Homo sapiens: one gene and its partner. The protein of the gene in region 1 purifies or fractionates together with the protein of each later gene. This does not show direct contact. Each region holds a gene or a part of one and is shown in the gene's direction. Other genes may lie near its edges.

What was found.
Region 2: the proteins of PLEKHA5 (region 1) and KCTD3 purify together in Homo sapiens (affinity purification with mass spectrometry; 2 studies listed by BioGRID). This does not show direct contact.

Annotation. Positions count from the first base shown.
Region 1 is NC_000012.12:19,341,187-19,351,686, forward strand, and holds part of PLEKHA5 (pleckstrin homology domain-containing family A member 5), read left to right. Parts: intron 1-2,136; coding exon 2,137-2,248; intron 2,249-4,655; coding exon 4,656-4,702; intron 4,703-5,807; coding exon 5,808-5,996; intron 5,997-7,212; coding exon 7,213-7,333; intron 7,334-10,500.
Region 2 is NC_000001.11:215,575,296-215,585,795, forward strand, and holds part of KCTD3 (BTB/POZ domain-containing protein KCTD3), read left to right. Parts: intron 1-605; coding exon 606-679; intron 680-2,374; coding exon 2,375-2,433; intron 2,434-2,633; exon of another isoform or gene 2,634-2,695; coding exon of another isoform or gene 2,696-2,705; coding exon 2,706-2,786; intron 2,787-3,704; coding exon 3,705-3,842; intron 3,843-4,613; coding exon 4,614-4,704; intron 4,705-10,500. UniProt on the Homo sapiens protein: Accessory subunit of potassium/sodium hyperpolarization-activated cyclic nucleotide-gated channel 3 (HCN3) up-regulating its cell-surface expression and current density without affecting its voltage dependence and kinetics.

The DNA of each region.
Region 1 (10,500 bases):
GGATTGCTTGAACCCAAGAGGCAGAGGTCACAGTGAGCCAAGATCACATCGCTGCACTCCAGCCTGGGTGGCCGAGTGAGACTCAGCCTCAAAAAAAATGAAAGGAAAAGAAAAATAGTTCAAAGTTAGTAGTAACCAGAGAAATGCAAATAAAATAAAAATTAGATTTGCATTGTATACCGTTTCAGATTGGCAAAAATGTGTCTATACATATATATATCTTTTAAATTTTATGAAAGTAATACATGTTGTATATAGATGTGCAAGGATCTGTTATTTATAGTGACCTTCCCATCCTCTGTGTCAGTATTTACATCTCTGGGCTGTCGTTGTGTTTGGCTCTTGCATGGGTACTTTCTTTTTTTTTACTTTTTGATGCTTCCAGGCTGTAGCTTGGAAAACTAGATAACTTAGGTTATGTAGTGCCTTTTTGGAGCAGCATTAATTCATAGTCTTTAGGCTTATAGACTTTTCTTGAGTTTTTTCTTTTTCTTTTTTTAATCTTTTGATCAACTCCCAAGTGCTTGGAAGACTTTGAAAACATATTGCTTTTTTTTTCCCCCTGTGACAGAGTCTCACTCTGTCACCTAGGCTGGAGGACAGTGGCACGATCTTGGCTCACTGCAACCTCTTCCCCCAGGCTCAAGTGATCCTCTCACCTCAGCCTCCCAAGTAGCTGGGACCACAGACATACACCACCCCGCCCAGCTAAGTTTTTGTATTTTTGGTAGAGATGGGGTTTTTCTGTGTTGCCCAGGCAGGTCTTGAACTCCTGAGCTTAAGCAATCCACCCACTTCAGCCTCCCAAAGTGCTGGGATTATAGGTGTGAGCCACTGTGCCTGGCTGAAAACATATTTCTACCCATTAGAGGACTTTTTTAGCATATTGATGCAATACTGATTATATTCTAATATCTATAGTCATTAATAACTGATACTCAGCCAAAGAAAGTATTGTTCTAGGCAATGTGACAGTTTTTGTATGTCATTGCCTATTTTTAAAAATAAAGTTACATTCCTAGAATAGTGTTTAGTATTATCCAGAATGGTGTTATTATTACCCTATTTATGAATAAGAGTCATAGATTTCTAATAGAATCTCAGAGAAAACCAATGTAATCTTATTTTGGTTTCAGTTAGTGTATTTAACCTGAGGGCATGATGTGGAATTTTAGAAGTAAGAAAATTGGCCGGGCGCGGTGGCTCACACCTGTAATCCCAGCACTTTGGGAGGCTGAGGAGAGCGGATCACCTGAGGTCAGGAGTTCAAGACCAGCCTGGCCAACATGGTGAAACCCCATCTCTACTAAAAATACAAAATTAGCCGGGTGTGGTGGCACATGCCTGTAATCCTAGCTACTCGGGAGGCTGAGGCAGGGCAATTGCTTGAACCTGGGAGGTAGAGTTTGCAGTGAGCTGAGATTATGTCGTTGCACAAAATACAAAAATTATGGCATAGCACGTGCCGTAATCCCCACTACTGAGGAAGCTGAGGCAGCAGAATCACTTGCGCCCAGGAGGCAGAGGCTGCAGTGAACTGAGAGCTTGCCACTGCACTCCAGCCTGGGCGACAGAGCAAGACTCTGTCTCAAAAAAAAATAAAAATAAAAAAATACATTTAAACTCTGTCAGTCAAAATTCATCTTGATATATTTTGTTAGTTGTACCTTTGTTGTTGTTTTTATGTTCTAGAACCTAGGAAGTTAGTACACCTTCCATTTCTCACCCATTCCCCAATGCCCTGCCACATCTCCCCCTCCCAGAAATTATTTTTTCTTTTGGGGTTTGTTTCTGCTCTGTTTTCATTCTCTCTGTTTGTATTTTCCATTTTGGGTCCCTTTTAATCAATATGCCTTCCTGGTATCATAAATAATGTAAGACAAAGCTTATTGGAAAGATTTAAAATAGTATATTTAAGTATGAAAATTAAATATTTTTCTTGCTCTGCTCAGTCTTTTATATTTGCCACTGGACTTGCAAAATTGGGAGAGTCACATCAATCATATTAAATATTCGTAACACTTAATTCACTGCAATTTGCATTTTTAGATGTAATTTATATAATTAATATATAATCATTTAACTTCAGTGAATGATTTTTTTTCTTATATATGGTCTATCCATTTTTACTGATAGACGGAATCAGCAGGAATTCAGCGTGCACAGATTCAGAAAGAACTTTGGCGAATTCAGGATGTCATGGAAGGGCTGAGTAAACATAAGCAGCAAAGAGGTACTACAGAAATAGGTAAATTAGCTTTGCATTTTATTTTGTGACTGACCACAGTATTACAGTCATGTGTCGCTTGGTGACAGATTACATTCTGAGAAATGCATTGTTAGGTGATTGTGTTGTACAATCAGAGTGTACTTAAACAAATCTAGTTGTATGGCCTACTACACACCTAGGCTATGTGGTATATAGCTTATTGCTCCCAGGTTGCAAACCTGCACAGCATGTGACTGTACTGAATACTGTAGACAGTTGTAACACAATGTTATTTGTATATCTAAACATAGAAAAGGTAATGTGTTACACTCTGACATGAGGGCAACAACTAGGCAATAGATATTTCTCAGCTCTGGCTGGGCACAGTGGCTCACACCTGTAATCCCAGCATTTTGGGAGGCTGAGGTGGGCAGATCACCTGAGGTCAGGAGTTCAAGACCAGCTTGGCCAACGTGGTGAAACCCTGTCTCTACTAAAAATACAAAAAAAGCCAGGCATGGTGGCGCATGCCTGTAGTCCCAAATACTCAGGAAGCTTAGACAGGAGAATCGCTTGAACCCGGGAGGTGGAGGTTGCAGTGAGCCAAGATCATGCCAGTGTGCTCCAGCATGGGCAGCAGAGGGAAACTGTCCCAAAAAAAAAAAAAAAAATTTTCTCAGCTGCATTATAATCTTATGGGACCACTGTCGTATATGTAGTCTGTTGCTGACCAAAACATTGGTATGTGGCACATGACTGAATGTCTAAATGGAATGACATATATAATTGAGTTTCTTTTGTTATTTTAATGCATTTTTCTGAACAGGCACTCTTAACATTGAATCAGAGCACAGGTTTATAAAGTAAAAAGTGAAAGCTCTGTCAACCATACCTAAACAAAAATAATTATTGTCTTGTGTGTATAATTATAAATATCCACAATGTTTACACTTTAGAAGTTTTATCCCCACAACAAGAACTGGGATCATCCTATATCTATTTTTCAATAATTTGCTTTTTTCTCCATAACAATGCAGTGTAAGAATCCATTGTATAAGGGAACTGTAATATATTTATCCATTTCCATATTGATGGATAATGTATGTTGTTTCCAGAGTTTTTTATGAATGCTGTCATAAGCCATGCCATAGTGAACATTATTAATACATACAACTAAACACATATGTTAGTACTTAATGGATTTTAAAAGGTGAGAAATAAGCACATGTTTTCCATTTGGATAACTGCGGCCAAAATGCCCTCCTGAAGGATTATTTCACATTATGTTAATACCAGTAATGTTTGAGAAAACCCATTTCCCCATACTCTTGTTTAAATATTTGTTGCCTTTTTAATGTAATTGCTTTCCAATTCTGAAAACAATAAGTGAATGATTAGAAACTGAAGACTTCATTTAAAATATGTGAAATCGGCCAGGCGTGGTTGCTCACGCCTGTAATCCCAGCACTTTGGGAGGCCGAGGCAGGCGGATCACTTGAGGTCAGGAGTTCAAGACCAACCTGGCCAACATGACAAAACCCCGGCTCTACTGAAAAAAAAAAAAAAAAGTACAAAAATTGGCCAGGTGTGGTGGTACGCACCTGTGGTCCCAGCTACTTGGAAGTCTGAGGCAAGAGAATCTCTTGAACCCGGGAGGCAGAGATCACGCCACTGCACTCCAACCTGGGCAACAGAGTGAAAAACAATAAAGAAATAAAAATAAGCCGGGCGCAGTGGCTCATGCCTGTAATCCGAGCACTTTGGGAGGCCAAGGCGGGCAGATCACCTGAGGTCAGGAGTTCGAGACCAGGCTGGCCAACTTGTTGAGACCCCATCTCTACTAAAAATACAAAAATTAGCCATGCATGGTGGCGTGCACCTATAGTCCCAGCTGCTCGGGAGGCTGAGGCAGAAGAATTGCTTGAACCTGGGACGCAGAGGTTGCAGTGAGCCGAGATCTTGCCACTGCACTCCAGCCTGGGCGACAGAGCGAAACTCTGTCTCAAAAAAAAATAAAAATAAAAAATAAAAATAAATAAAAATAAAAATAAATTTAAAAAAAAATACATGAAATTGTTCTTTTTTTGGCTGGACGCCATGGCTCACGCCTGTAATCCCAGCACTTTGGGAGGCCGAGGCAGGTGGATCACTTGAGGTTAGGAGTTCAAGACCAGCCTGACCAACACGGTGAAACCCCATCTCTACTAAAAATAAAAAAAATCAGTTGGGCGTGGTGGCGCACGCCTGTAGTCCCAGCTACGAGAGGCTGAGGCACAAGAATTGCTTGAACCCAGGAGGCGGAGGTTGCAGTGAGCTGAGATCACGCCACTACACTCCAGCTTGGGCAAACAGCAAGACTTCATTTCAAAAAAACAAAAGAAATTGTTCTTTTTTTATAGTATTAGAAAGATATGTTTAATATAGTTACGTTTTCTAATATTCCCAGGTATGATAGGATCAAAGCCTTTCTCAACAGTTAAGTACAAAAATGAGGTAAGTTTGGATTGTTTTTCTAATTATAAATTACTTTTAATGCTTAAGAGATGAATTAGAAGTAATTGTCTTCTCTAATCTTAATAACAAAAATATTTTTTAAATATATTGAACAGATATTGTTTTAGTCTTGAAATTTTATTGGATCAGTAATTTGGTGCTTCTAATATGTGATTTTTCTTCCCTTTTTTAATGCAAAAAAATGGAATCTCTGCTTTTTATCTGTTAGAATTTTAACGTTGTCATACTTTTTCTAATCTAAGTAATGTTTGAATACTTATCATTGTTTCTTATACTATGTAAAATTTATAGGATGATCGATAGATAAGTTGGTTGTATGTCATGCGTAGCATAAAGAAATTACAACTACAAAGAGATACTGTCAACCTAACCAAAAGAATCTATTATTTTGAATTTCGTATAAAAACCAAAGAGGTAACTTTTTTTTTTCCTCTCTTAAAAATTGGGGGGCCAGGTGCAGTGGCTCATGCCTGTAATCCCAGCACTTTAGGAGGCCAAGGCAGGAGGATGTCTTGAGCCCAGGAGTTTGAGACCAGCCTGGTAAACATAGCAAGACCCCCATCTCTAGAAAACATTGAAAAATTAGACGGGCATGGTGTGCCTGTGGTCCCAGCTACTCGGGAGGCTGAGCCAGGAGGATCCCTTGAGCCCAGGAGTTCAAAGGTGCAGTGAGCTATGTATGATCAAATCACTGCACTATAGCGAGACCCCATCTCTACCAAATAAATAAATAAGATAAATTGTGAAAATATAAGAATAGGATTTTAAAATCAGTTCTTTCCTTCTAGTTTTAAAATGAAACCCAGTAATTAGTTTTAAATAGTAATCTCTTTCAATGTTGAGTTTCAGTGTGAAGCTAACCTATATGTTACAGGAAAGAATCAGATGTAATTATATGTTAAATTCCAATTATTGGCTATGATAAAAAATTTTTGATTTTACTTTTCATTATTAGACTTTTGGCTTGGCAGTGTCCCTTTTAGTATCTTAAAGTAAATTTAAGTTAATATACCATTGCAAAGAATTTAGATATGCTTAATTCAATCTGCTTATCTAAATAAGGTGACTGTTCTACAATCTTTAGGAAGAGGAAGTAGTCCCACCTCGTCCTCCACTTCCTCGGTCCTATGACTTTACAGAGCAGCCTCCCATAATCCCCCCTCTGCCCAGTGATAGCAGCTCCTTGCTCTGTTATAGCAGGGGCCCAGTTCATCTGCCTGAAGAAAAGAAGATGTATCAAGTTCAAGGATATCCAAGAAATGGATCTCACTGTGTAAGTGGCTGGAATAGCCACAGAATAATCAATCCTACATGTCCTCTCATTTTTGAAAATTAATTTATTTTACACTCAAACTTTTTTTTTATTATAACCTTTATAACCTCATTTTTGGCCAGCAGTTTTTAGTTTATATATGACTTTATCATTTGTGTCTTTCCTGTTTTGGTTTTGCTATTCTCATTTTTAATATTTTTATAATTTTAATATTTTATAATTTCATAGCATTTTTCATATTTTCATAAAGTGGTAACTTTTCCCATGATGAAGCAGCCGTATTTTAGATATACCATTTTAGGGTATTGGAGGCAAGATTATACCTTCAGATCAGAAAGAAGGGAGAAAGAAAAAGACCGTTACTAGGGATGGTAAAGGGGCTGGGATGTGGACATTTTGGTCTAGGAAAACTACTCAAAGATGTGGATGTTGCTAAGGAGAGATGTCACCCCTGAAAATGGGAAATACGTTTAGGGTTAAGCAAATAATGTAGGATATAATAAGCAAAGAGAAAAAGGAAATTAGAATTGAGCTAATTTGAGAACAACAAAATGTCTGTGACAGGAATTTTAGTGCTGGGATGGGCCTCACTTAGACTACCTTGTGAATGAAAATTTATTGAATTAATATAGTTATTTTTAGCCCTCAATTATTCCATCATAAAAATGTGACTTTGTTCCTAAGAGGAACAGAAATATTCTTTTTTTTTTTTTTTTTTTTGAGACAGGGTCTCACTCTTTCCCAGGCTGGAGTGCAGTAGAGCAATCTCAGCTCACTGCAAGCTCCGCCTCCCAGGTTCAAGTGATTCTCCTGCCTCAGCCTTCTGAATGGCTGGGATTATAGGCGCACACCACCATGCCCAGCTAATTTTTGTATTTTTAGTAGAGACAGGGTTTCACCATGTTGGCTGGGCTGGTCTCAAACTCCTGGCCTCAGGTGATACACCCACCTTGGCCTCCCAAAGTGCTGAGATTACAGGTGTGAGCCACTGCACCCGGCCAGAAATATTCTTAATATTAAAACGAAGTTTTGCCACTTAAAAATTTCTCAAATTTCTTCTTTCCACGTAATTGTGACATAGGTATTATTTGTGTTATATCCCAGATGGCTCACTAGGGCTACTAATGTTTAGAGTTTGATTTGTGTCTTTAGCAGTAAACATTTTAAAAGAAACTTTTAGCAGTTTTTTAGGGTAATTACATGTCTTCCTTTCAAGGGTCCAGATTATAGACTCTACAAGAGTGAACCAGAGTTAACAACAGTGGCAGAAGTTGATGAATCTAATGGAGAAGAAAAATCAGAACCTGTTTCAGAGATAGAAACTTCAGTTGTTAAAGGTCAGCATTTGTAATATGTTTTACCTCTTGGTTTTTGTTTTTGAAGACAATTTACTGCCAAAATAGTAGTAAATTCCATTTACATGTTGACTCATATATGAGTCCAACCCTTTATCTGAAACCTTTGGACTCTGATGAGTTTCTAAATTAAGAAATTTTCAGATATTAAAAGATAAAATGGCCCATAAATGATATATGTCATCTCAGCTAGGTATGAGGCAGCACCCTTTTTTTAACACTATTTCTACAATATTCATTCCAAGTGGCATAAATAAATGCTAAAAATAAAAGACATTAGCTGGGCATGGTGGCACGTGCCTGAATCCCAGTTACCCGGGAGGCTGAGGCAGGAGAATCACTGGAACCCAGGAGGTGCAGGCTGCAGTGAGCCGAGATCGCACCACTGCACTCCAGCCTGGGCAACAGAGCAAGACTTCGTCTCATAAATAAAAATAAAAGACATCACATCAGATTAGGTTTTACTAAGAAATAAGTTTATGTCAAACTTTAAAGTTTCCCATTTCCTGGGAGAGTTTTCTTTTTTTTTTTTTCTGTTTCTGGTGGTTGTTTTTGTTGTTGTTGTTGTTGTTGTTGTTGTTGTTTGTGATGTGTTGTTGTGTGTGAGGTCTCACTCTGTCACCTGAGCTGCTGTACTGGAGCAAACATGGCTCACTGTAGCCTCGACCTCCCAGACTCGGTGATCCTCTCACTTCAGCCTTCCAAGTAGCTGGGACTACAGGCACACACCACCATACCCAACTAATTTTTTAAGTATTTGTAGAGACAAGGTCTTGCCGTGTTGCCTAAGCTGGTCTTGAACTCTGGGGATCAAGCATTCCTTCCACCTCAGCCTCCCAAGGTGTTGGGATTACAAGCATGTGCCACCACACCTGGACAGGGTCTTTTCTGTGTGTGTGTTTAAAATTATGCATAAGGTATTAATGGCTGAAACAAATTTTCACACAATATCAACAAAGTAAATTCTAAAATAATATTTCTGTAATGTATACTCTGATTTTTTTCTTAATGCTGGTCATTTTTCTAGAAGGCAATTGCGTAAAGAAAAGAGTAGAGAGAGAACTATCCTAGATTAAAAAGATAGATAGGCCAGGGGTGGTGGCTAACGCCTGTAATCCCAGCACTTCAGGAGGCCGAGGTGGGCGGATCACCTGAGGTCAGGAGATCAACAACAACAGCAACAACAACAACAACCAGAAACAGAAAAAAAAAAAAAACTCTCCCAAGAAATGGAAACTCTACCAGCCTGGCCAATATGGTGAAACCCCATCTCTACTAAAAATACAAAAGTTTGGCTGGGCACGGTGGCTCACTCCTGTAATCCCAGCACTTTGGGAGGTGGAGGCGGGCAGATCGCAAGGTCAGGAGGTGGAGACCATCCTGGCTAACATGGTGAAACCCTGTCTCTACTAAAAATACAAAAAATTAGCCATGCATGGTAGCACACACCTGTAGTCCCAGCTACTCAGGAGACTGAGACAGGAGAATCACTTGAACCCAGGAGTCAGAGGTTGCAGTGAGCCAAGATCGTGCCACTGCACTCCAGTCTGGGTGACAGAGTGAGACTCCGTCACACACAAAAAAATAACAGATAGATATATCGCACTGTTTGAAACTTGATTGGACCATGGTTTAAAAGAAGAATCTCTAAAGTAGCACAATTAATGGAAATTTAAACATGTTCTAGATATTAGCTAACAGTGTGATTGTGATATTGTGGTTGTGTAGTAGAATGTAGTATGTGAATTCTGAAACACTTAGGACAAAAGCATCTGCCACTTTTAAAGGATTCGCCAGAAAGAATGTGTATGTATTTATGCAGAGATAATGTAAGTGTGACAAAATGTAAAACTTTTTAGAAAAATAAGTGCTTATCATAACCCACTGGACTGATTTTTGTAATCTGCTAAAGGATCACTAAGTAAAGTTTGAAAAACATCAAAGTGAGGCCAGGCTTGGTGGCTCACGCCTATCTATAATCCCAGCATTTTGGAAGGCAGAGGCGGGCGGATCACAAGGTCAGGAGTTCAAGACCAGCCTGGCCAACATGGCGAAGCCCCATCTCTACTAAAAATACAAAAATTAGCCAGGTGTGGTGGCGGGCACCTGTAATTCCAGCTACTCGGGAGGCAGAGGCAGGAGAATCACTTGAACTGGGAGGCAGAGGTTACAGTGAGCCAAGATCGTGCCACTGCACTCCAGCCTAGACAGTGACTCCATCTCAAAAAAAAACACAAAAGCAAACAAACAAGAAAACACCTAAGTGGTAGTAATGTTCACATAGCTTTTTTCATTGTTGGAATATTTTTCTAGGTTATCTAATGTCGTTTTTTAAATTTAAAAATACTGGCATCTTGAAAATTTAATATTTATACACCTTTTCTTTCTCATCCTAATCCTGTCTCCTTATTCAAAGTCTTTTTTTTTTTTTTTTTTTTTGAGACAGGATCTCACCATCGGCCCAGGCTGGAGTACAGTGGTGAGATCATGGCTCACTGTAGCCTCCTTCCTCCTCTGCCTGCCAAGTAGCTGAGACTACACACGTGTGCCACCACACCTGGCTAATTTTTGTATTTATTGTAGAGACAGGGTTTCACCATGTTGCCCAGGCTTGTCTCAAACTTCTAGGCTCAAGCAATCTGCCTGCCTCAGCCTCCCAGAGTGTTGGGATTACAGGCGTGAGCCACCACACCTGGCCACAACAAAGACTTTAAATGGGCTGGGAATGATGGCTCATTCCTGTAATCTCAGCACTTTGGGAGGCCGAAGCAGATGGATTGCTTGAGTCCAGGAGTTCAAGACCAGCCTGGGCAACATAACCAGACCTCATCTCTATTTTATAAAGTAAAAAATGTATTTAGCTTTTTTTTAAGCATATACAACAACTATTTGACAAAAATAGCATATAAATGAGGAGGAAGTTTATTGATATTAATACGCTTTAACATCTTTGTTTTGTTCTGAATCATGGTAATGATTTTGACTAACTTCAGACTTTCATAAGTTTAAGTATGCATGCTAGGGTTTAAGATAAAAGAAATTGTTGAGACTGCAGAGAGCTGTGATCGTGCCACTTACACTTCAGCCTGAACAACACAGCAGGACTCTGGAAGGAGAGAAAGATAATCCAAAAAAGAAAAGAAGCTGGA
Region 2 (10,500 bases), on another chromosome or scaffold:
TTTTAAGCAATTTGTTTTCCTCTTATGTATTCTGTGGTGCTTTAGTTTAAAAAAAAAAAATTGTCATTACCTTTCCCCAGCTCTGAAGGAAATTGAGATTAGTAAAAGTATTATGAGAATAGTATTCTTTTCCACTTTTGACAGCAGTGTGCAGTATTTACTTTTCTCAAGTACCCCTGTGTGCATTATTAAAGTACATTGTAGTTTTAATGATTGAACAGTATAAGAAAGTATTATTTATTCATGTTTTCGAAGTATTAATTGAATTCTAGACTGTTTCAGATAAAAATGTTTCCTCAGGTGTCACTTTTACCAAAGGTATCAATACAAGTGATTTTATTAGACAAGATTTTTTCTATGTATTAAAATATCAGTTTAATAATAACTATTCAGAGGAAGAAAAAGACACCATCTCAAGAAAAAGACACCATCTCATGAAATGCACACAGACTACATTCCAATTTTAGAAACATTAAAGTTTAAGAGTGGAAACAAGGAAATGTAGTATTTAAGTAATTAAGACTTCATTCCCTATTAGTGTTACAGATATTAAAGTTAAAAGATTAATTTGTAATTTGAAAATAAAACTGTTCTCTTTTTTACAGATATTTATTGATAGAGATCCAGCAGCATTTGCACCCATTTTAAATTTTCTTCGGACAAAAGAACTAGACTTAAGGTAAGAAATGCACTCTTTTTAAAGTAAATTCTTACTGATAAATATGTGTTTTTAATATGTTTTATGAAATAAAAGGTTTTTTTTGTTTGTTTTTTTTTTTCCTTGAGTTGCAGTCTTGCTCTGTTGCCCAGGCTGGAGTGCAGGAGTGCAGTGGCATGATCTCTGCTCACTGCAACCTCCGCCTTTCAGGTTCAAACAATTCTCCTGCCTCAGCCTCCCGAGTAGCTGGGACTGTAGGCACATGCCACCATGCCCGGCTGATTTTTTGTATTTTAGTAGAGAAGGGGTTTCACTGTGTTGCCCAGGCTGATTGCAAACGCCTGAGCTCAGGCAGTCTCCCCGCCTTAGCCTCCCAAAGTGCAGGGATTACAGGAATGAGCCACTACGCCCAGCCAGAAAAGGTTTTTTTTTTTTTACTAAGACTTTGATTAAAAGTTTCCTCACACTGAAACTGGATGTGGTGGTACACGCCTATAATCCCAGCTACTCTAGAGAAGAAGCTGAGGCAGGAGGATCCCTTGAGGCCGGGAGTTTGAGGCTGCAGTGAGTTATGATCATGCCTCTGGCCAGTACTGCTGTACTGTTAACACAAATAGTTTCGAAATAGAATAAGAAAGTTTGAAGCTTTTTTTTTTTGAGACTGAGTCTTACTCTGTCACCCAGACTCACTGCAATCTCCACCTCCCGGGTTCACGCCATTCTCCTGCCTTAGCCTCCCAAGTAGCTGGGACTACAGGCACCCGCCACCACACCCGGCTAATTTTTTTGTATTTTTAGTAGAGATGGGGTTTCACCGTTTTAGTCATGATGGTCTCCATCTCCTCACCTCGTAATCCACCCGCCTTGGCCTCCCAAAGTGCTGGGATTACAGGTGTGAGCCACCGCCCCCAGACACAAAGTTTTAAGCATTTTTAATGTTAAACTAGTCATAACCAGTTTCACAAATAAAAACAATTTAACATAGTAATTGTATATATTTATCAAGGCTGGGGAATATTTTTAAAATAAGGACAAATTACAACTGAAACCTAAGATGAATTATTAGTATTATAAGTTCTGAATCTTCCATTTTTTAAAAATTTTATTTCATGTTACTTAACTTTACTACTATGAAGTAGCATCATTTCATCTGGATAACATAGCCCTTCCCAAGGCTAGTCTTTTTTTTTTTTCTATTTTATTTGTTCAACAAATATTTATTACATAACTATTTTATACAAGCACTATGCTAGGCACTGTGAGGTATACAAACATAGATCAGAAATAGATCATGCTCGCAGGGAATTTATAGTGTAATTGGGGAGATTAAGATAGATATGTATAGAAATAATTGCGATAAAAAGTTAAAAGCAACTAATGCCATAAAAGAATGGTTTCCATTCTATCGTTTGCCTTCTAGACAATTTATTTGTACTAGCCTGATAGAGCCCTAATCTCTCCTTTAGTGACCCAATTCATATATATGTATATATATGAATGGTTTTTAAGTAGATAACAGAATATTTTTGTTCACATGCAGTTTTTATTTACACTTTTTAATGATTAAGGATAATAGAAATAAAGAGTATTAGGAGGAAAATAATTTTTAAAGCCTTATGACTATATACATGAAGAACCTAGAATTTTTTCCTTTCATGTCAGATGATAATACAGGTTTCCAGTGTTAGAGAATTTACATCATTTGTTTCTTTGTAGGGGAGTGAGTATTAATGTTCTCAGGCATGAAGCAGAATTTTACGGGATCACTCCATTAGGTATGTGCTCTTTTAATATTTGGTGTTTATGATTTGACTCATGTATGAAAGTTGCCCTAAATGAAATGTGTTTATATCAGGTCCTAATTTTTGATGGACTTGTTCAGTGCTTAGTTTTTGTGGATTTTCATAGTAAAAAGATGTTGTCAACTCTGACTTAATTAAAATTTTCCTTTTCTTTCCTTATCCTCTTGAACTAGAGAAAATAAAAATGGAGTACTGTTTTTCTGTTTGCATGTACTCTTGACAAGTTTGCTTTGAAATGTTTTTAGTAAGAAGGCTTCTCTTATGTGAAGAATTGGAGCGTTCCTCTTGTGGCAGTGTCCTTTTTCATGGTTACTTGCCCCCACCAGGTATTTTCACTTTATTAAATCTTTTAAAAAATTCCTTGTATCATTAAGCAAGTACAAGCATATGAATAGGAAAAACTGCTCCTTGATTATTGAGTTTTTTGTCTATAAATCTATTAGAAATGGTAAGAACTTTTGATTTTTATAGAAATTAAGTCACATTATATATTGGAGCAGGGGTTTGGCAAACTTTTTCTGTAAAGAGCCAGATAGATTTTGTGAGCCAGAGGATCTCTGTGACAGCCACTTAACTCCGCTGTGTATACTACATGAAGACTAGGTTTAACTGTAACCACTACAACTTTATTTACATAAATAGCATTGATTGGGCTGGATTTTCCATGGCCCATAGTTTGCTGACCCATATGTTAGAGCACTGGTTGTCAAACTGCTTTTTTGCAAAATTTAAGGAATTCTGCAGAGATAAGTCAGTGTCACCTCAGCCCCACTTTAGTTAGAAGAGCCTGATTTTACCTGTGTTATAATGGACTTCTGAGCAAGATTTCATTTTAAAAAATGTTCCCCTGTCAAATAAAAAATGTTTGAAAGTATGGGGAATTTCAGTTCTAAAGCAGTTAAATTATTACATAGTACCTAACACATAATACCTGTACCATAATTGTAAAGAGTGGCTGGCAGACTGAATTAATTACCCATTAATTCAGTAACCTAAAGCTTATTTATTGTAAACAGTATGACAATACCAGAAATCTGTTGACAGAATTTTGTCTTTGTCTTTGTTTTTTTCATTTTCATTTTATTTTTTAATTGTAATTAAATTATTTGTAATAATTTGCTATATTGGAAGATGTATTTCGGCTTTAATGAAATTCACATTTTTGTTTCTTTGTCACAATGTGATATTTTTAATTTTTGAAAGGTGAACTTAGGAATGTATTTGTTTTCTTCTTCTCTTTATAGGTATTCCTAGTCGTAAAATAAACAACACAGTCAGATCTGCTGATTCTAGGAATGGTCTAAATTCTACAGAAGGTGAAGCCCGGGGAAATGGTACACAGCCTGTTCTCTCTGGAACGGGAGAAGAAACTGTTAGGCTAGGTAAGCAAAGATTACAGAAATAGAAAAAGAAAAATACGTATGTTTTTAGTGCTGGGTGATATTGAGTAATTACTTTTAAAGATTTTTGCCTCATCTCCTTTTTTATCCAGATTTATCATTTATATCTTGGAAAGGTCTCATTTAACACTTAATTTTTATTTAAAATGTTGTGTAATCTTCTATCTTCTCTGAATCTTTAGAACAGGGTTGCCAAAATTTATCTGGTAAGAGCCAGAGATTAAATATTTTAGGCTTTGTGGGCCACGTGTTCTCTGTCAGACCTACTCAACTTTGCCATTGTAGCATGAACACATAATGGACAATATGTAACAAGTAAGCATGGCTGGGTTCTAACAAAACTATTTTTTTTTTTTTTTTTGAGACGGAGTCTCGCTCTGTCGCTCAGGCTGGAGTGCAGTGGTGCCATCTTGGCTCACTGCAAGCTCTGCCTCCTGGGTTTACGCCATTCTCCTGCCTCAGCCTCCGGAGTAGCTGGGACTACAGGCGGCCGCCACCATGCCAGACTAATTTTTTGTATTTTTAATAGAGATGAGGTTTCACCGTGTTAGCCAGTATGGTCTCGATCCCCTGACCTCATGATCCGCCCGCCTCGGCCTCCCAAAGTGCTGGGATTACAGGTGTGAGCCACTGTGCCCGGCTCTTAACAAAACTATTAACCAAAACAGGCAGAAGGCTGAAACTGGCCTGGTGGCTGTAATTTGCCAACCCCCGGTTTAGAATGTAAAATATTTCTTTTTCCAAAATCAACAGGATTTCCTGTGGATCCACGAAAGGTGCTAATAGTAGCTGGCCATCACAACTGGATTGTAGCTGCATATGCCCATTTTGCTGTGTGTTACAGGTAGTGTATAATTAATAATGCTTTGCTTTTACAGGTGGCAGTTTGAAAATTAATTGTGATTTTATATTTTTAGATTGAAAAGCTATTTTTTTTTAGTCATCAAGTTTTTTCCCTGCATATTTTACCCATGTCTGTATCATCTGATTAAGATTTAGTGTACTTTTATTTTCACAGCTAATTTGGTAAATGTTTCTGATAGCCTTTATCTGTTGTAAACATTTAGCAGACAAGTGTGAATTGTCATGTAACTGAGATATCCTGATGTATTATTTATTGCTTATACCTAGCTTCTGAGACTGTAGTATATAATGATGTTAGACAGGATTATTAATGTGAGCTCCCTGATGGTCTATCTCTAATGATTCAGTGTTTTGTATTCTATAGCAAGGGAGAGTACATTGGTCATAAATACCACATTTTGGGAAGTGAGGTAGTAAAGCAGGACAGTTATTGCACAAGTGGTATAGTTTAATATCTAATATGTGAAACTTACAAAGAAGTAGTTTGGTTTTACTAATGCTTACATTCTCAGAGCCTGAGAAGCAATGAAGAATAGTGTAGACCGGTGATTTTTTTTTTTTTAATTGGGAAAGTGATAGGACTCTTAGTTCAAAATCACTGTACTCATTGAGAAATGTTGATGACAGAGAATGGTGTAGAAGCACAAAAGTGGTTGGAATATACTAGCTTAGATTATTATTTCATTTAATTGCAGAAAAATCAAAGATACATAAACTATTTGTTTATCACTGTTGAGTTCGGTTAAGAAAAATAGTCACAATAAGCTGAAAAATATCTAAAATGTCTTCTAAAGTTTACAGATATAGTTTAAAGAATCCCAGATGTATTTTTTTTTTAAAAATCTGAATTTATGAAAGGTTTGGCATGTCTGGTAAGTGCTGTTTATATCAGTAATCTCAGGTTTATATTTTCCTTGTAGTAATGATTAAGTGCAGACTTTTATGTTTTAAGAGTGTTTTGGCTGGGCACGGTGGGTCACGCCTGTAATCCCAGCACTTTGGGAGGCCGAGATGGGTGGAGTTCAAGATCAGCCCGACCAACATGGTGAAACCCCATCTCTACTGAAGATACAAAAATTAGCCAGGTGTGGTGATGCATGCCTGTAATCCCAGCTACTCGGGAGGCTGAGGCAGGAGAATCACTTGAACCCAGGAGGTGGGGGTTGCAGTGAGCTGATAGCTCACCATTGTACTCCAACCTGCGCAACAGAGCAAGACTCTGTCTCAATAAATAAATAAACAAATTTTTAAAAAAAGTGTTTTGTGGATTTGTAATTTTAATTATGAAATAGCATGGAAATTGTTTTTTGCATAATTTCTTTGGGGATGGTTTTGTATGAGGCAAGACTAATTTGGTAAAGTAATTTTTTTTTAGGAAGCATTGTTTTGAATTTATCATCTTATATATTTGAATTGAGGTGACTTGTAGACCCTTGTTTACATATTATGTACATATTTTTGTCAATAAGGAATTCCAGAAGAATTGTGAAATGATAAGTGATCCAAGTGTAACAGCATAACTTCCGTTTTGTTACTGTACACAATACTAAAGATTGCTCTTTTCCAGAACCACCACATTATTACGCAAAATTTAACTCACTGGGTAATAATTGTATGGAGGATGATGCTATTACATTTTCCAGTCTTTGCGTTTGCATTGATCACGATCTTTCTGTGCTTTCACCAAGTGTCTGACATTTCAGAGCAATATACTCATGTAAAGTGACGAAGGAAGACAATTGAGGACATATTTGGATTTCCTCACATATAGTTAAATCATTCAACACAATGGCAATAAAAAGATTTCAAAAGAAAGAAAAATATTTAAACTGTTTAAAAGTGTAATCTTTTTTACAAGTTATTTTTCCTCAAGTTTTTGTATCAGTAAGTTACAAAACCTTTAAAAAAAGAGTAGTACAGTGAAGACCTGTATGATGTTCTCCTAGCTTCACTAATTTTCTACATGGTTAGGTTTTATGTTTATGTCCCTTTTTCTTGCTGAGTTTATGACAGTGTTACTTCTATTAACGAAGAGTAGTTGTGTGAATTGCTGCCCCCTTGGGGCTTATATTCCACTTTAGATCTTTAATCCTTGTGGAGTTTACTTTTTTGTATGTGGTATGAGATTTAAGGATTTATTTTCTTCTCAGTGGGTAGGTAATTATGTTCTGACAATTTATTACGTAAATCATTCTTTGTCAGTGAATCTGATAGCCCATTTTATCTTGCTTTATGTGTGTGTATATACTTGGATCTGTTTTTCAGTTCTCTCATTTCCTTAAGACATATGTCTATTCTCATACAACTTGAGGTGAAGTATGTTCATAATAAGTTTCAAAATCTCACAGGGCATGTCCTCTCTACTGTATTTTATTGAGGTCTTCATGTAGGAAATAACTAGACGTAACTCTATTCTTCGCATAGCTGTCTTAACCAGAGGGTTGGTTCACTAGGCAGCAGTAAGATGATGGAGAGGTGAAATAACAGAGCATATTCTTGTTTTATATTTTGTTTTATTTATTATTATATATTTTTTGTTTTGTTTTGTTTTTGAGATTTTGAGACAGAGTCTTGCACTGTCACCCAGGCTAGAGTGCAGTGGCGTGATCTCGGGTCACTGCAACACCTGCCTCCTGGGTTCAAGCAATTCTCCCACCTCAGCCTCCTGAGTAGCTGGGACTACAGGTGTGCACCACCACACCTGGCCAATTTTTGTATTTTTAGTAGAGACGGGGTTTCACCATGTTGGCCAGACTGTTTTCAAACTCCTGATCTCAAGTGATTCACCCGCCTCAGCCTTCCAAAGTGCTGGGATTCCAGGCGTGAGCCACTGTGCCTGGCCTTGTTCTACATATTTTAAATGTATTACTTGTATGGAAAGTTATAGAGCAAATATGTACCTTCTTTGTAATTTTTTAAAAAACAGGTAAATTCACATATCTTATTAAGAGTTAAATTCTGTAGTTGTTATAGTTATTTTTAAATATGCTGTCCTGATTCTTTTATCCTTTTTTGACATCTCTTTATTGTGTAATACCCTAATTACTATAGAGAAAAACAACTTAGAAGTAATATGTCTGTAAAAGATGAGATTATATAGTTTTTTTTTTTAAGTGAATCCAAGTTTATTAAGAAAGTAAAGGAATAAAAGAATGGCTACTCCATAGCCAGAGCAGCCCTGAGGGCTGCTTGACTGAGTATACTTACAGTTATTTCTTGATTATATACTAAATAAGGGGTGGATTATTCATGAGTGTTTCAGAAAGGAGCAGGCAATTCCCAGAACTGAATGTTCCTCCCCTTTTTAGACCATATAGGGTAACTTCCAGACATTAGATGTCATTTGTAAACTATCATGGGGCTGGTGAGAGTGTCTTTTAGCATGATAATGCATTATAATTAGCGTATAATGAGCAGTGAGGACGACCAGAGGTCACTTTTGTTGCCATCTTGGTTTCAGTTTTGGCTGGCTTCTTTACTCCGTCCTGTTTTGTCAGCGGGATCTTTGTGACCTTTACCTTGTGCTGACCTTCCTTGTTACGCTGTGACTAAGAATGCCTAACCTCCTGGGAATGCAGCCCAGCAGGTCTCAGCCTTATTTTACTCAGTCCCCATTCAACTCTGGTTTGAACACCTCTGACATGTTTTCCCCTTCCCTTTTACAAGGGTACTCTTAATCCTAAGGGTTTCAGAGGGAGGAAGATTCATCTTCTGTAACTTCTGCAGTCTGAATAGGGATGATGGTATTTCTGCCTATTAGGGTCTTCTGCATTCAGAGTAGAGGAGAGCTCAGTTAGAAACTGTCAGTATGGTGAGAACTCTGATTTCTGACAAAAAGTGATGACTGAAAAATTAATAAGTGTTCGATTTAAGAAAGCACTGAGTAAGCTTATCTTGCATTCCTACACAAAGAGAACAACAGCAGTATATTCTACAATAACAAGGCAAAATAAGTAAAATTATCCCAAGTAAACTAAATAAGAAGGCTTTTCATGAACTGGGAAATTGTTGTAACCAAGCTGATATGGAGTTGGAACCAAGCTGATGTGCTAGCCAATTCCAATACATGCCCACAATTAGAATACTGATCCAGATTTCTGTGTTACCCATGCCTCTTGTTTCTTCTGAACAGCAGCCACAGATCACTGCTTGGTCCACAAGGATAAGCAGGATGAGTCCAAATTGCAGAAAGAACTCAAAAACTACTGATGAGACAAATCTAATAAAAAGCATACCATAGTTTTTGAAACAATTTTCCTATTTTCAGTCTTTCATTTTTACTAAAGAAATCATGGTAGGACTGATTTGTTTGCAAAATAAGCTTTAGTCTTATTATACTTGGCCTGATTATTTGTATAAAGTGCAGCAAGAATAATTAGTTCCTATATAGGCTCTTTTTAAATTGACTTTGATAGAACTTTGATCCATAAAGAATCTCAAATGAGACTTCTTAAAGCCTTGAGCCTTGCCATGGGTTTATCATTGCCTGCAAATACCTGTATGAGTTGGGTAAGTTTCTTTCCTTTTGAGGTTTCATGATAACTTGGGGCTTTTGGGCCTGTCAGAAAGTGACTTTCTTTACTTACCCCAGACAGGTCAGAAACCTTGTACAGGGACCGTGTAGACAAGATATGTGGCCAGTTTTTCCCAGGGGCTTTTATCAGCTCTATGAGTCAAATTTGATTCCTTAAACAAGTCCATATCTGAAAGCATGCTATTCCAGTCAAAGTCTTGGTAAAATAACCAGTTTCTCCAATTGTGTCCTGTTACAAAAGAAAACAGATTCTTATTGTAGTTACATATTGCTGTAAGTTAAGAATACTCACAAATAGTTTCCAAATTCTGGAGAAATCAGATAGAGAGAAAGAAATATGCTCCAAATTTTGTTTATAAGAGTATACTTTACTCAGTTGTTAAAAGCTGCAAAATCTCGAAAGAAAAGTGTTCTTGACTCCAAAGTCAGCTAATTGGTGCTGCAGTCTATTTCCTTTGGGTTGGGGGTCTCTCCACTATCTCATTTCATGGTTTCCCAGGAAGATGTTACTGGAAAGGGGTCCTCATCCAGACCCCCAAAAAAGAGTTCTTGGATCTCTCACAAGAAAGAATTCAGGGTGAGTCCTTAGAGTAAAGTGAAAGCAAGTTCATTAAGAAAGTAAAAGAATAAGAGAATGTCAGCAAATTTTAGTGTTTATTAGGTAAGTATTTAAGTATTTTCATTTGTTTATCTTAACAAATGAATCCCATCTGGTGGCTGAAGAGGGTGGTTACAAATTACACAATGCTTAGGAAAAATTGATACATTTTTCTCTATTGCTTTGAAGTTTAGGGAAATCATTAGTTCTTCAAATTAATATGCTCAATTGTATATTCTTATGAATTACAGTTGTATTACTTGGCATACATATTTAAGGGAAAATGAAGTTGATGTATTTTTATTTAGGCCCTTAGGTGACCATCATTTATGAATACCTAAGTTTGCTTTTTGCAGCGAATGTCAGGTAGTGTGCAAAAGAACGCTTCTTTTCCTTCATCTTCTATATTCTCTTTAGGTAAGCCAAAAGAGAAATTTTATAGTTATGTTTGCATTATTTGTTGAGTTTAAAAATAGATACTTCATAGTTCAACTCATTCATTATTATGATTACGTAACTGCTAAAGCTCTAAATGTATGAAGGCTGCTATACATATAATCGCATAGAAAACATTTCTTTAAAACCTAAATTCAGATAGGGCAGAAAGAATTATTAAAAACTGACAGGATATTTATTAGAGAAAT